Linked DNA regions of Homo sapiens: region 1 is linked to region 2. The links come from fine-mapping of genetic effects on gene expression. A gene starts in region 2. The other region holds a variant in brackets. All regions are shown on one strand. Distances are from middle to middle.

Region 1 (4,401 bases), 76 kb before region 2:
ATTATTCATAATTATTAATAGTATTGTCTTTAAATAAGGTAAACACTCTTGACCAGAGAAGAGGGGAGTGCACGATTTCCCATTTTATGGGGCCCTGATACAGAAGATAATTTGGGGTGGCATGAGGACAAAATACTAAATAACACCAAATCATATTATGGGAAATATGTCTTTATCAACTCTCATCACTCAGTCTACTTACGTTGAGGAGAAAGTCTCAGTTGGGTGCTAAAGAAACCTTAATATCTAACATTTCCAAATCAACCTCTAAACGAAGAAAGAGCAAGCTTCAGACCCAGAGACTTGAGCCAGAAATGATAACTAGCCAAAATATAATACTGGCACTTTGTTTTCCTATATTTATTTTGCTTACTTCAATTACTTTTTAATATGGCTACCTTAATTTGGATAGGCAATACATACATATGCTTCTCAAAAATCAAAACAGCGCTAAGAGGTATGCAGTGAGAACCCCTCTTCCCAACCATGGGCCTCTTCTGCCACGATATCCTCCCAAACAAGCATCCACTTTTATTGGTTTCTTGTGTAACCTTCCAGAGTTTTCTTAAGCAAATATGAGCAGACATAGATATCTTTTTCTAGTGACTGGCCTCCGTGACAGATTTTTGTTTGTTTGTTTATTTATTTATTTATTTATTTATTTATTTAGACAAAGTCTCATTCTGTCACCCAGGCTGGAGTGCAGTGGCACCATGTCGGAGTGCAACCTCCACCTCCCAGGTTCAGGCCATTCTCCTGCCTCAGCCTCCAGAGTAGCTGGGACTACAGGCTCTTGCCACCTTGCCCAGCTAATTTTTTGTGCCTTTTTTTTTTTTTGGTAGAGAGAGGGGTTTACTCTGTTGGCCAGGCTGGTCTCAAACCTCAAGTGATCCACCCACCTCGGCCCCCCAAACAGCTGGGATTACAGGCATGAGCCACCCAAGCCCAGCTGTTTTTTAATTTTTATTTTATTATTTTTTTCTCTTTTACCTTGCAGCTGTAGCTCAAAGGAAGCAAGCATTTTTATAAGATACATTTCCAGAAGTGGGATTTCTGGATCAGAGAATAAACACATTTTTATTTTAATAGATATTATCAAATCATTCTTCATAAAAATCGTACATGTTTCCTCTCCCATGAACAATGTATGAGAGTGTCTGCTTCCTTGCAGCAAAGTGGATTTTTGCCAATCTGATAAGAGAAAAATAACTTGTGTTTATTTTATGAACAGTAATTTTGGGCAACTTTTCATAGGTTTGGAAGCATATGAAAAGTTTGTTCATAGGTATTTTCTTTCCTGTGAATTGTGAAACTGTGTGTTCATATTTTTATACATTTTTTTCAAATGGGTTTTTGGTCTTGTTCTTACTAGTTTCTGGTATGCTTTATATTTTAGAAAGATGAGTGCTTATTCTACAATAGAAGCTACATTTTTTTTCCTGATTTGTCTTTTGGCTTTGCTTATGGTGCTTTTCTCCCTGCAGAATTGTTTTAATTTTTTTTTCAATCTTTTCTCATATGGTTTCTGAAATTTCAGTTACAGTTTAGAAAGGTTTTCCTAATACAGGACTTATAAAAGAATAATCATATGTTTTCTTCTAGTATTATTATTTTTTTTTACATTTAAACCTCTAATCTATTTGGAGTTCATCCTTATGGTACAGTGTGAAGTTTGGATTCAACTTCACTTTTTTTTGTCCCAAATGGTCACCCAGTGTCCTAACACCATTTATGGACACACAACATTTTACTATTTTGATGAAGTCAAATTTATCTATCTTTGATGGCTTGTGTTTTTGACGTAATATTGAAGAAACTGTTGCCTATTCCAAGGGCATGAAAATTTACCACTGCCCTTTCTTCTGAGAGGTTTATGGTTTTAACTCTAACCATATTATTCCAAGGCACATGAAAATTTACCCCTGCCTTTTCTTCTGAGAGTGTTATGGCTTTAGCTCTAACATTTAGGTCTTCAATCCATTTTGGGTTTAATTTTGTATTTGGTGTGAGGTAGGGGTCCAGATTCATTCTTTTCCACA[T/A]GGCTGTCCAGTTTTCCTAGCACCATTTGTTGAAAGGCTATTCCTTCCCCCACTATTCAGTCTTGGTACGCCTGTCAAAAATCAACTGGCCATAGATGGATGGGTTTATTTCTGGGCTCTCAACTCTGTTCCATTGATCTATATGTCTGATACCATTTACTGAATAGCCCATCTTTTCCACACCAATCTGAGATAGCAATTTTATTATAGACTAAATTCCCATTTGTGATTGAGTCTGTGTCTAGACTTTCTGTTTTGTTCCATTGATTCCTGTGTTTATTCATGTGCCTGTTTGACCCACTCATGGATTTTAAGCCTGGAAGTCATATCATCAGATTCACATTTTCAAAGATCAACCAGGCTATACGTGGGGAGAACAACTGTAGCAAAGGAAGACAGTTGCAGGGAGACAAGCTATCAGGCAGTTGCAGCCTCCCGGACAGAGAGGATGTGGCTTGGTCAGGTGGTGGTGCTTGTTGTAGGTGAGAAGTTAGTTATACCTGCAGTGGCCACTCCTAATCTCCCACTTTCTGTTTCAGGGGCTGGAGGAAGAATAAATCTGAGATAAGAACCAATGCAGAAGATAGGGCTCGAGCTGTAATTCGGGAAGAATACCAGAACCTGGGGCCCATCAAGTATGTGGGGGCCCTTGGGTTAAGGAAAGAGCTGAGTATTAAACGCTCAGGAGAGCTTCCTCCTGGCCTGGCCTTGGGCCCATGGGGGCTGAGCTCCAGGGGAATTCCAGGACCCGTGGCGTGGGAGCCTAGAGATGGAGGATGGGAGGTGGTTTACACAGTCAACCTCTTGCCGTGGTGCTGGGGTAGAAACCTGAGGACCAAAAAGCCCCTCAGAGTGTACTTACAGTGGGATCTGCTACCTTCCACCCAAGGCACCGTTTCCCTCCCGGTACGCAGAATACCTGACACTATCTCAGGTGACTTCCGGGACCTTGTTTAATGCACATTTCCATATGGTGAAAATAACGGGTTCAGTAGGCCTGTGTTCAAGGACCAGCTGTGCCACTCATGTCCTGTGTGGCTTTGGTCATGGCACTAACCCTCTCTGGGCCCTGCTCTCCAGTCTGTGAAATGGGTACATTGGGTAACTGTCTCCTCCAACTCTTGGGGATCCTCTCTTTCCACCTTCATCCACCCTCTCTCCAGGTCTGTCCCCTCTCTGTGTCTTCTCCTTTCGGTGTAGACAGACTGTGTGTTTTTCTGTCTCTCTCTCTCTCTGTATGAATGCTCCTCTTTCTCTTTGCCTACTGCATTTCTGTCTGTTTCTCTTCCTCTCTGCTTTTCGGACTCTGTCTCTGTTTCTCACTTTCTTGATTTTCCGTAGGACCCTGGTAAACTCCTGGTGATAATGAAACACGCGATTTCGGGGAGGGGGTGGCTTGAGGCTCAGGAAGGATCCTGAGGGATCGTGGAAGTCCTAGGACAGGAATCATTTACAGTCCATTGGCACCCCTCCCCTCACTCTGGGCACTCCCTGGGGAGTGGATGACTTCAGCTTTCTCAGAGGCAGAGCCCGGGCCCAGTCACTCCCAGTGGGCAGCTGCCTGAGCCTGTGCCTGCTGCGGTCTGCCTGAAACCCGGGGTCACCATCATGCCTGCATGTCTGTGCCACAGGTTTGCCGAACAGGCTGTTTTCATCCTTTTCTGCATGTTTGCCATCCTCCTCTTCACCCGGGACCCGAAGTTCATCCCTGGCTGGGCCAGCCTCTTCAATCCTGGGTGAGACTCTGGGGACCCACAGGGAGGAGTCCAACAGGGAGGATTCTGGGCTGGGCCACCTGGAGCTGGAGAGGCGGCAGTGCAGCTGGGGAGACACGCATCCAAGTTTCCATCTTTTGTCCCATATGATTATTAATAGGTCCCTCTTTCACTCTCAAAAGAGTTTAGGTTTGGGTGATAAAATATGACTTCTCATGTGTTGGGAGCTCTGGATTTGGAGTCAGACTAAACTGGGTTAGAATTCTAGCTCTGCCACTTACGAGCTGTGTGACTGAGCAAATCGTTCATTCATTCAATCAACATTGATTGAGAACCTATTATGTGCTAAGCTGGATGCTGGATGCTGGGACACAGACAAAAGCAAGTAGTTAGACAACAAAACAACTGCATTGCAATGAGTGCTATGAAGGAAAGACTGAGAGGGTTATGCTATAAAATAATAGAGCAGGGGCATTGACTTTGGACAGTTCTGGGAAGAGCCAAAGCTTAGGAAGACTGCAGATGAAAGCAGTGGAGATGCCCTGGGAATGTCTACTGAAGCCTGAGTCAGAACAAACGTAGCATGTTTGAGAAAATGAGAAAAGCCCAGTGGGAGCGAGGCCTGGTGGGAAGGAAGGAAAGCGGGT
Region 2 (4,401 bases):
CATCTTTTTGTACTGATTTAATTATTTGATTAAGATGTTCCTAGAAGCTGAGTTGCTGGAATAAAGGACATGCAATCTTCAATTTTGGTACAGAATGTCTACTAGAAATGTCATAGGAATTATACTCCCACCCAACCTGTCTGGGAACAAATATTTTTTCCAAATTCATGCCAATACTTTATTATTCCGTTTAATCTTTGCCAAATTAGTCTGCCAAAAAAGTACGTAATCAAAAACTTTTTGCATTTCTTTGCTCTAGAGTATTATTGGCCATTACCTCATATGTATAGTTATGGCTCTTTTACAATTCTTCTATATTAATTGTCTTATTCATGTTCTTTTTTCATTTTTTAAACAAATTTGAATCCTCATCTTTACTGATTTCTAAGAGCTGTTAATAAATTGAGTCTATTTCCAATCCTTCTCATATATATGAAACCACTTTATTTTCTCCATTTATTTCTTTTTAAATCTATTTTTTTCTGAAGCAAGATTTTTTCAATTTTTCATAGCCAAATTGATCAATACTTTTCTCTACAGTGTCACTTTTACATGGCAATGAAAATAAGATAGAAAAATGTTCCCAATTACAAAAGTAGCAAAACATTTGAGACTATCTAAACTTGAATGAATAGAAATATATTCAATTTTCTTGATGACTAGGAAACTTTGCTTTAATAAATTTCAGTAAAAGAGCTTCCCTAGCAAGTAATGCAAAAATCACTTAGTCTGTGAGTTTGCTTTTAACATTTCAAATTATATGTCAATGTGAAATATATTGATTATAATGTGTGAGATGGGAATCTTAGTTTTTTACTCCAAATGGTTAGTGAGTTGTCCCACATCACTTTTTCAATAATCTATTTAACAATAAGCCTTTCTCAATGATTTGAAATGGCAGCTTTTCATATTATATTCTTGGAAATCATCTTTTGTTGGTGCTTAGCTAGCTATTGCTGTGTAACAAACCACCCAAAACTTAGAGGCTTAAAATAATAAAATTCATTATTTCTTGTAGTCTGTATGTTTACTGGCATCAGCTATATGATTTCATCTGGAGCTGAAGTCATCCAGGAACTTCACTGGCCTAGAATGTTCACTCATATGTCTGATGTCTCTAGGCAAGGATGACTGGAAGGCTGGGATAGCTGCATTGCTAGGAAAGATGGGCCTCTCTTTTTCCATGTGGTCTCAGGGCCTCTCACTTCCTACTTCTCCTGGTTTCTCCACTTGGTCTAACAGGTTAACTGCATGTCTTACACAGCGTCTAAGGACTCTTCAAAGGGCAAAGCTGAAGCTGCCAGGACTTTGTATGGCTTATTTCTGGAACTGGCACAGTGTGACTTCTGACGCATTCTTTTGGTTAAAGAGAGTCACAGAGTCAGTCAAAGTCAACGTGGGAGGGAAATATACAAGCCTGGAATACTGGGAAGTTTAGTTCATTGGGGGCCATCTTTGAAGACTAGCTACCACCAGTCGCTAATTGTTCTTTTCTGGAATTGAATAATAATACATTATAACTTTGTCAGAAACTTTCATGCCTTCCAATGAGTAAAGTTTTATAAAGTTCTATTTATTCAATATGTATACAATTCATATACAGTCATGCATAATATAAGAATGTTCCAGTCAACGATGTACTGCATATACAACTGTGGTCTCATAAGATTACAATACTGTACGTTTACTGCACCTTCCCTATGTTTAGATATGTTTACATACACAAATACCATTGTGTTACCATTGCATATGGTATTCAGGACAGTGACATGCCACACAGGCCTGTAGCCTAGGAGAAATAGGCTATACCATACAGCCTAGGTGTGTAGTAGACTATATTGTCTAGATTTGTGTAAGAACCCTCCATGATGTTCACACAAAGACGAGATTGCCTAAAGACACATTTCTCAGAGTGTATCCCCATCGTTAAACCATGCATGATTGTATGTATTTTCCTTGTGGATGTAAAACTATTTTCTATATTACTCACAATGTATATGAGATAATTCGTGGTATTAAAGTATATTAACTATATTGCTAATTTAAAAAATAACAAATTACTAGACCTATATGAGTTCCTCTTTGTAAAGCTGTCAGAAGAATGTGCACCTAATGTTAAACTCGGATATCTCTGGGAATTGGGGTTACGGCTAATAGTTCATTTTCTTCAGAGATATTCTGATTTATTTTCAACCTTCACGTATTGAAAGCCAGCAATGATTTTGTATCCTGTTTGGGAGAAATTTTCTGCAGGTCGTTAGTATTATATTCTGCTGGAATATCTTTAGCAGTCATTTTCATTTCGCAGAATTTTCCTTTCTCATCTATAGACTTCGGTGAAACGGATATGAAACTTTACTTTTCGTATTGATGATTCACAGCAGTCACCTAAACTCTGTAGTTAAAGCAGAAGCTCCTCAAAGATCCCTCAGGGTAGGGCGGTGGCCGCGACGCCTTCTGGGGACTGTGGTCCGGAAAGCCGGCGGGGGGCCCGGGAGAGCCCCGGGAAAGGCGGCCCGGGGGCCTTTCTGCGCATGTGCTGTTCCTGTTTTTTACCTGGACGCCCTTCCGGTTCGCCAGGCTCTTCCGGGTGAGGGTCCTGCAGCCCGTGAATCCCTGGTCCCGCCGAGACTTGGACCTGGTGCGAACTGGAGGCGAAGCGGGTGCACCCACAACCTATAGGAAGGGCTGGCGGCGAGCTCTGAGCACTCGGGCGTCGGAGGGAACGGTGGGGCCGGGCGGAGCGGGCCTCGGGTCTGCGGAGGGTGGACGCGCGCTCTCCCTGTCTTTGGAGGGAGGGTTTCCTGTGGTCGGGAGGCGAGGCAGCCAGGGCAGGATTGGGCTCCTGACCTGCAGGCCACGGGCGAGCTCTCTCTAGGGCCCTGATTTGCCCGAAGAAGGCGCTTGGTGAAGGTGAAAGGTTTACGCATCCAAGTAGCTAGAACCTCTTTCCAGAACTTCTGCTGATGCACTTAGTCTTGCAGCCATTGATTATTATAGCTCAGCAAAGTTCAGTTCAACTTTCGGAAGAAGGATGTGAGCTGGAATGGGCAGGGTCAAGATTTGACAGGAAAAGACACTTCACTGGAGGTATCTGCGAGAGTCCTGGGTTGGAGGGAAGGAGTACTGGTTATAAATAAGGAAATGATGTCTTCATCACTTCCTAAACACATACATGTCATTCCCTACCATCTCCACCCTCTGTTTATTCAGAGCTGCACCAACCATGTTCATCACCTCACCTGGGATTTACTGAGTTTACCCCTTACAGAGCTACACGATAGGGGTAAAGGAAAGACTAAAAACCAATTTATCTTATATTAAAATTACGACTTAGTAAATATTTTTTTCAGTAATGCAGTTTGCTAGTGACAGATCCAATAACTGAATTCTGGTCCTTTGAGTACCAGGTCAGGGCTTTTGTCATCTACCACATTTACGTTACCTACCACAAGAAGTTTCTTAGTAAAAGGTCCTCTTGTGAAACTGCAGCTAAGGGAAACCAAACTGTCAAAAAGACAAACACCTTAAAGCACTTTCATTCATTCTCTCTGGATTCTGTCATCTCAAGTGGCTAAACACATTAGTAGGAAAACAGGTAAGTGACATAATATCATTTTCCTATTCCAAGAAATCTTTTAATCCTAGAGTCCATTTTAATGCCAAAATAGTGTTCCAGGCTTTGTATATACTAACTTTCGTTGACCTAGTCTCCTATTAATTGGACTCAGACGTTTTCAATTTTTTTCAAAGGAGGCATAGATTGACAGTAATTCAGTAGAAAACATTTGTTGACACTCACTCAGTAAGAAAAGCTCTATGAGACCATTCTAGAACTATAAATGGACAAGTGAACGTTTCCTCAACATGTTGCTTCCTGAACCAGACTGGTCAAAGGGCCATGTTTTTAAATGGGTGTGTGGCTTTGTAGGTAATTGTAGAGCTGCTGTGTGAGCCAAATCGCTCATGATTCCATTCGCCATTCTTCCTTACCCAGCTCTGCTTTCAACACTCTTGGCCCTTTCTCAAGAGAACATGAAAATGAAAAAATTTCAGGTAAGTTGCTCAGGGATTTACTTCTCACATTATACAGTGAATTTCAAGAGGTTTAGAGTAGTTTGCAGATGAAACGAAATGTATAAAATTCAGCATCAGAGAAGAGTATTCGATCAATACTGGAAAAGTGGACATAGATATACAGAAATCATATATTCCTATAGAGTTACTCAAATGGTTCCAGAAAGGCCCAGACAATATGAGATAGCCCTTACACTGGATTTTTGTGTGGTTTTCCCATCATTTATATCTAAAAATTTTCTTGGATGATCTTTGAGTAAGTGAAGTAGAGACAGTTCTGCCAAAAACAGCTGAGAAAGAAATGGTATGGGTTTCCTGTGACTT

The links. PIP is the estimated chance that this variant, and not a neighbour inherited with it, causes the effect.
Region 1: its variant is the best candidate, but not a certain one, in a credible set for the expression of ZNF334 in ileum (GTEx, PIP 0.89).

The regions. Positions count from the first base shown.
Region 1 is chr20:46,587,433-46,591,833 of GRCh38, reverse strand. SLC13A3 (solute carrier family 13 member 3) reads left to right here. Exons shown (of 13, transcript NM_022829.6): 7 at 2,579-2,674; 8 at 3,671-3,775. Among named protein-coding and RNA genes, the nearest start is that of OCSTAMP, 39 kb to the right of the region's middle. RefSeq lists an enhancer at 2,761-2,850. The variant T/A (reference allele first, on the strand shown) is at 2,040.
Region 2 is chr20:46,511,737-46,516,137 of GRCh38, reverse strand. ZNF334 (zinc finger protein 334) reads left to right here and starts at 2,579. Exons shown (of 5, transcript NM_001353824.2): 1 at 2,579-3,598; 2 at 3,998-4,056. The coding sequence starts at 4,036. RefSeq lists a silencer at 2,305-2,539.